Homo sapiens: one gene and its partner. The protein of the gene in region 1 purifies or fractionates together with the protein of each later gene. This does not show direct contact. Each region holds a gene or a part of one and is shown on either strand. Other genes may lie near its edges.

Region 1 (3,750 bases):
AAGTGCTGGCATTACAGCAGTGAGCCACCACAGGTGCCACAGTTTTATTTTTATTTATATATTTATTTATTTATTTATTTTTGTGAGTTTTGCTCTTGTTGCTCAGGCTGGAATGCAATGGTGGGATCTCTGGCTCACCACAACCTCCTTCTCCCGGGTTCAAGTGATTCTCCTGTCTCAGGCTTCGGAGTAGCTGGGATTACAGGCACCCGCCACCACACCCGGCTAATTTTGTATTTTTAGTAGAGACAAGGTTCTTCTATGTTGCTCAGGGTGCTCTCAAACTCCCAACCTCAGGTGATCTGCCTGCCTCAGCCTCCCAAAGTGCTGGGATTATGGATGTGAAACACTGTGCCCTGCCTCACCTTGACCTTCTGATCCAACAGAGTCTGGGGGAGCAGAGCCAGGGGCAGGTGTGTCTTCAGGAGTCGTGGGGCCGGTGTGTCTTTCAGAGTCTCCATCCCTGAGCAGTGGGTCAGGGAAGGTCTGGTGAGCTGAAGCCCCAGCCCTGTCTTCCTCCACTCCCCTTGCACCCAGGACACACTCACACACCTGAGGGAATCCCTGGGGCTTTGAACTCAAGGAAGGGCACCCGCATGAAGATGGGAGCTCGGTGACACTTCTCCAGGTCACCACCCTGGTAGATCATGTCCAGAATCTGGCTTACCCAGGTAGTGCCTGGAGAGGGAGGGAGATGGGAGGTGAGCAGGCTGAGGGCACGACCTCGCTGGCCAAGGTGGGGACTGCCACCTGGGAGAGGGTGGGTGGCCCTCCTCACTTACCGGACTTGGGGTAGGTGCTGATGAGCAGGTCATCAGGCCGGGCCTGGAAGCTCTGCAGGGGCCCCAGTGCCTCTGCAAAGTACTTGATGAGCGGGACCCCCTTCACGTACTCCAGTGGCGGGCGGGAGGTGTCCTGGATCAGCTCCATGTTCCTGCGTCAGGGGCCAGAGCCAGGCCCGTTCCCTTACCACCATCACAACAGCAAGAAAGTGGAATTCTTGCTTTCAGGGAAGTCACTGAGGCCTAGGGAGGCTGAGTGACTTGCCCGCACTCACAAAGCCACTCAGTGGCGGGGCTGGGGCTGAAAACCAGGTCGGGCTCTAATGCGGTGGTTCCCCAGCCTGGCCTCACCTTTCATTCACCTGCGGAGCTGTTCAAAATCCCAGGGCCTGGGCCATGGTGCAGACCAGTGAAAGCACCCTCGTCGGGCAAGGCCCAGATGTCAGGGTGTGTGAAGGTCTCCAGGAGAGTCCAGCTGCACTGAGGAAGCTCTAGGACCTTCCTGTGCTGTCTCCCTGCCAGCCAGCGCCCTTTGTCTCACCACTTCCTGCTGGGACCCCCAGCCTCCACCCAGTGGAGATGCTCCCCTCCTTGAGCCCCTCAGCCCCTCACATGTGGAAACCGCCCAGGCCAGCCAGGCCTGTGATCCACTTGCCTGGCCACAGTCCATCTGGGCTCCAGGACAAACACGGCCCATTGAGGAACTGAGCTGCTACTAGGGGCCAGAGCTGCTGTGGGAATGAACAAAACTCTGATGACTCAGCAAAAGCACAGGCCTAGGCAGGGTGGCTCCCACCTATAATCCCAGACCCTAGGGAGGCTGAGGCCAGGAGTTGGAGACCAACCTGGTGCAGCATTGCAAGACCCCATCTCTAAAAATCTTTAAAAAAATTCTTAAACATTAACCAGGCAGGATGATGAGGGCCTGTAGTCCTAGCTACTCCAGAGGCTGAGGCAAGAGAATCACTTGAGCCCAGGAATTCAAGGCTGCAGTGGCCAGGATCCCACAGCACTCCAGCCTGGGTGACAGCAAGACCTGGCCTCCCCGGGGAAAAAAACAAACAAACAAGGGAAGGGAGGGGGATTCACGCAGGCCAGGGTTGTCTGAAATGGGATATCCATGGGGAAAGGGCAGGGATGCCAGAGGCCTCAGCTTCTGGAATGTTAGAGCCACAAGCTGAGCAGGGTGAGGGCGCCCTGGGCCGTTCCACTGTGTCACTCACCTGAGCTCTTGGGAACCTGGCCTCGTGCCCTCCTCGCCCGCAGTGGCTGATTGTGGGTGTTGTGTGGGGAATGCAGGGTTGTTCTCTGAGCTGAGGGTTTCCTAGGTCCACTGTGGGAGGGATCTGGAGCCGGGGCTGGACTTAGATTTGCTTCCGGAAGGAAGGGGTGGGGTTGGGGGTGGGGGAGCTTCTCCATTACCCTCCTTAGTGTGCCAGCTGGAGACAAGCTTAAAGTGATCTCCAAAGCCACGACTGAGTTTGCTGTGTAGAAAACAGAAGAATGAAAGGGGAAAGGCCCAATGGTGGGTTTGTTTTTGTAGGTTTTTTTTTTCTGTTTTTTTTTTTTTTTTTTTTTTTTTTCCGAGCTGTCACTGGGCTCCTGACCTGCCCCTGAACTCCACCCTGCCAGGCAGCCAACAGACAAGCTCTCTCTAATTGACCCAGGCAAGAGAGGGGAGGGATTGGAGGAGAAAGCTGGGATAGGCAGGCCCTGGAAAGGTCACCTACCTGCTGGCTCCAGGCCAGTCTTGAAGGTGCCAGGGGTTCTGGCCCAGTGCAGCCCACAGGCCCCCAGCAGCCCATGCACTCCAGGCTCTGACCACAAGGCCAGTCTAGAGGGATGTGTGTGGGCAGAGTGAAGGGGCAGGGGTGGAGCAGAGCATGGATGCATAGAACAAGAAAGAACAAGGACACTGCAGTCCCATTGCCCTGGGAGTCAGCCCCAGCTTCATGGCTCCTGGGGACCTCAGAGAACATTGATAGAAGATCCTAGAAGAACCACAACCCGTGGCAGGTGGTTTTATTTCCCTGGGTTTGAAGGAGGCTCCACAGACAAGAGACCAGAGGAGGCCGAGGTTTGGAAGCCACAGGGCCCCGTGGAAGGGGGGCATCCCCCCATCCTCCTCGTTCTTTATCCTCACTTTAAAGTCCAAGGTCAAGCTGTGCACGAGACAGGTAAACAACCATCTGAGTAAAGGTGAATCTCCCAAGACTTCCAAGAAATGCGTGAGTTCAGAGGCAAGCGGACAGGTGGGAGTGTGGGGGAAGCTGAGGCATGGGAATTCCAGGCAGAGGAGAGGCTTCTCATATGCTAGGGCCATGGACCCCTCCTCCCTCCTCTGTGCCCATGAGGAATCCCCGTGACTGGCAGGTCCTCAGGCTACTAGCTCCACCCCTGCCCTCAGCAACCCTCAGGAGGTTCCCTTGACTAAGACTTTGTATTGCACTCTAGTAACAACCTGTCGGACCCACACGGGGTGACACAGAAAAGAGGCGAGAATGTGAGATTAATAGAGTGGTAGCAAGTGAATACAAAATCCCAGGCAGCAGTTTCACATGAGGAGAAGAAGGAAACTTGAAATAGCTGCATGCGCTAAGGGCCAATAAGTCCCTGAAAAATAGGATGAGGACCAAGCTGGCTACGACCAACCAGACACAACATGGCGCTGTATTTGATGTAGGTTTCACCTAGGATCTCATTGTATGATCAGTAACATATGAAACCGTACACCCACCAGTGCCAAGACGGCTCCAGGAACACCTGTATTTGGGTGTAAATTGTGGCACCACGGTCTTGAGAAATCTTTACCTTTTCCTGGACTCTTCATGAATATACCCCTCTTTAGTTGAAGAAGCCCATAAAGGTCAGCCCCACACCTTGTAGGGCATGAGACACTCTCTTGAGGACCCCCACGTTCCTCTTCTTCAGTGAGTCCCTTTACTCTGCAGGAAATCTGCCTACATTC
Region 2 (3,041 bases), on another chromosome or scaffold:
GGCCATGTTATATATATATATATAAATATATATAAATAAATATATATGTAAATATATATAAATATATATTTTTTCTTTTTTGAGACGGAGTCTCGCTGTCACCCAGGCTGGAGTGTGATGACGTCATCTCGGCTCACTGCAACCTCCACCTCCCAGGTTCAAGCAATTCTCCTGTCTCAGCCTCCCGAGTAGCTGGGACTACAGGCGCTGCCACTACGCCCGGCTAATTTTTTGTATTTTTAGTAGAGATGGGGTTTCACCATGCTGGCCAGGCTGGTCTCGAATTCCTGACGTCAGGTGATCCATCCGCCTCAGCCTCCCAAAGTGCTGGGATTACAGGCGTGAGCCACCGGGCCCGGCCTGAGGAAGAATCTTGAAGGTCAGGGAAGATACTTGAGATAAAGCAGAAGAAACTCAAGAAAGGCAGAAGACTGAATATGACAAAGCTTACCCCCTCAAATCAGCAAACAGTGAAATGAGAACCAAATGTCGAGACTGACATGAATAAGAAAGTTTTCTTTTAAAAATAGCAGCTCCTAATTGGATCCAGGAAAGATCATTCACCACATGCAAACTCACTTGGCTCTTGTTTACCCACCCGCCCTGCCCTTTTTTTTTTTCCACAAAAGAGAAGAGACTCAAAGAAGATTTCTTCTGAACGTGTGTCACCATTTATTGTAGTTTGCGTTAGGAATTGAACAGAGGACATTGTCTGTGGAGGGAAAAAAGGAAAAGAAAAAAGAAAGTATGCTTTTTATAGACTTAATTTCTTCAGAACACTTTATGGTTTCAAATCCTTTTTTTTTTTTTACCCCAAAGGAAATTTGAGAATTCAAGTATGTTAAGTAGGGAGCAGTAATACAAAAAGTCTTATACTTGTGTGCGCGTGTGGCTGTGTTTGTCTGTGTGTGTTGAAACCGGCAGACATACTCCCACATTCTTGCACCCTCTTTTGCTTTGGTAAGGCCAAACACATCACACAAATGACCCTGCCTCAAACTCACACACCCAAGGGTTGAAGAATTGATTTACCCCCAGAGGATAACTGTGAAGGTTTCAAACTGTCACGTAGCATTAAAAAAAAAACCCAACCCTCATCTCCCCAAAATATAAGTCACATAAGTCCTGATACACTTACACCCCTAGATTTTGCTGCAGCTGCTCCTCAGATGCCGAAGAGAGGCTTATCACAAGGACCAGAGCAGCAGGATTTTCTTTATTTTGTTTAGAATAAAAAAATCTTAAAGGGACATTTCAAAAGAAAAAAAAAACTGAAATTCAAATTCTGAAAATATCTTGCCTTTTTTATTAATCATGTCATCTAACACCAATTAAAAAAACAAATATGTGAATATGATATAAAAATACGATCCCAGGATTAACACTTGGTAGCAGGCACAGTTATCTCACAGAATATATGTTTGGAGGGCCAGGGAAAGGAGTTTACTTTTGTTTTTGCTTCTCTTAAAAAAATCCACAGCAGTGCAAGTAGGGTCAGGAAGGGGGAGAGGGGAAAAAAGATTCTTTAGCAGCAAAATGTCCAAGGTTCTCTAATCACAATCAAATCAACGGATATTGGATTAAAAAAAAATTCATGAAGGGATGCTGCCCAGACCCATTAGCCATCACTAAAAGACTTCCGTTGCCCCAAACTGTGACATACGAAGGACATGCTTTATTACACAAGCAACCATAAAACCTGTCCCTTAAGCTTTTGACCGTGTTTGTCACTTAAATATATGTACAGGAAGCGGGCTCCTCTTCTCATCCATGTCCTTTCAGGTCTCAGCGTTTGCTCGCTCTGGGTGGGCCTGGGGTTGGTTTGCCACATTTGGCCTCCAACACATGAACGGCAGCTTCGCTGCGGCCGCTGCTTCTGCTTGCCTCGTTGGCCTTGGCTGTGTCTAGCAGAGGGTGGGCGGCGGAACGGTTTAGTGATCGCTGTTCTGTTTCTCTCTCATCCACGCCTGAATCTGCTCTTTCAGTTCTGGCACTGAGAAAAGAAAAAAAGGAGGATTAATGCCCCAGATGGGAGGGCTCTTCCTGAGAGAGGATGCTTGTCGCTCTGTATAAATGGGAAGAAAAGGCCATTCTTTCCCTCATTGAGCCGAAGACTCCAGAAGGACTGGGACATGAGAGGGAGGGACTGGATGTCTGCAGGGAAAAAGGGCCAAGAGTGTTTTGGGTCTTTGCTACAGAGTGTCATAAAGTAGGTAGTTTCTGCATTTGATAAATTTCCCTTCTGCTTCATCTCCAATATGTGACTTGGGCTTTATCTCTTGGTACTGACGCCAGCGCTGCACCTCAAACTGCACCCTCCTCTACCTGGTTCCAGCATGCTCTCTGTCAGCGTCTGCCGGTTGAAGGGGTCCGTGGGGGAGTTGAGCAGGTGCCGCAGGATGATGGAGCGGTCCATGATGGTGCCAGAGGGCAGCCGCACGGGGTCTGTCATGAGGGTGTCCATCAGAGGGTCTGCGGGGACAAAGCAAAGCAAACTCTAATCTACTGAGAGCCCACGACTGAAAAAGAAAACAAAGCCCGTTCTACCAGCGAAAAATCTATCCAAAGGAACAGCAATCAAAGGGCCCCTGTGAGGCCCCCAGGTTTAGAAGGAAATCAGCCTTCAATAAAGGCATATACATTGCCTTTTGTAAGGGGAAGGCGCTTCTTTGTCAGCTACTGCTGGGGGGAGGGAACAGAGAAGAAAGCCTGGGACAGACCCAGCAGCAGGCCCCACAGGCTCCGTGGCGAGGACGGCAGGCTGGAATTCTTTGTCTTAGGACTTCTGGGAATTCTTTGAAAATGTGAATCCCCACTTGCAAAGGCAGCCCTGCCCTTAGAATCTTCAGGGTTGTTATCTGGCTTTAAGTCAGGCTAAGCTAAGGATGTTTCTTCCTCTCAATTTACAATATGAGCTAAAAATAGGCAAATGTAATTTAAGACAGATTGTCTCAAAAAGCAGCTCTAGCACACCATTAAAAAATTAATTGCACAGGACGTCCTCTTGTAATGTTATCGATTTCCAGTTAACTCAAAAGAAA

Evidence for each region.
Region 2: the proteins of SULT1A1 (region 1) and UBE4B fractionate together in Homo sapiens (co-fractionation; one large-scale study listed by BioGRID). This does not show direct contact.

Annotation. Positions count from the first base shown.
Region 1 is NC_000016.10:28,607,926-28,611,675, forward strand, and holds the start of SULT1A1 (sulfotransferase 1A1), read right to left. Parts: upstream 2,120-3,750; 5' UTR 2,006-2,119; exon of another isoform or gene 935-2,005; 5' UTR 931-934; coding exon 783-930; intron 679-782; coding exon 553-678; intron 464-552; coding exon 366-463; intron 1-365. UniProt on the Homo sapiens protein: Sulfotransferase that utilizes 3'-phospho-5'-adenylyl sulfate (PAPS) as sulfonate donor to catalyze the sulfate conjugation of a wide variety of acceptor molecules bearing a hydroxyl or an amine group.
Region 2 is NC_000001.11:10,178,847-10,181,887, reverse strand, and holds the end of UBE4B (ubiquitin conjugation factor E4 B), read right to left. Parts: intron 2,473-3,041; coding exon 2,326-2,472; intron 1,994-2,325; coding exon 1,932-1,993; 3' UTR 649-1,931; downstream 1-648. UniProt on the Homo sapiens protein: Ubiquitin-protein ligase that probably functions as an E3 ligase in conjunction with specific E1 and E2 ligases. May also function as an E4 ligase mediating the assembly of polyubiquitin chains on substrates ubiquitinated by another E3 ubiquitin ligase.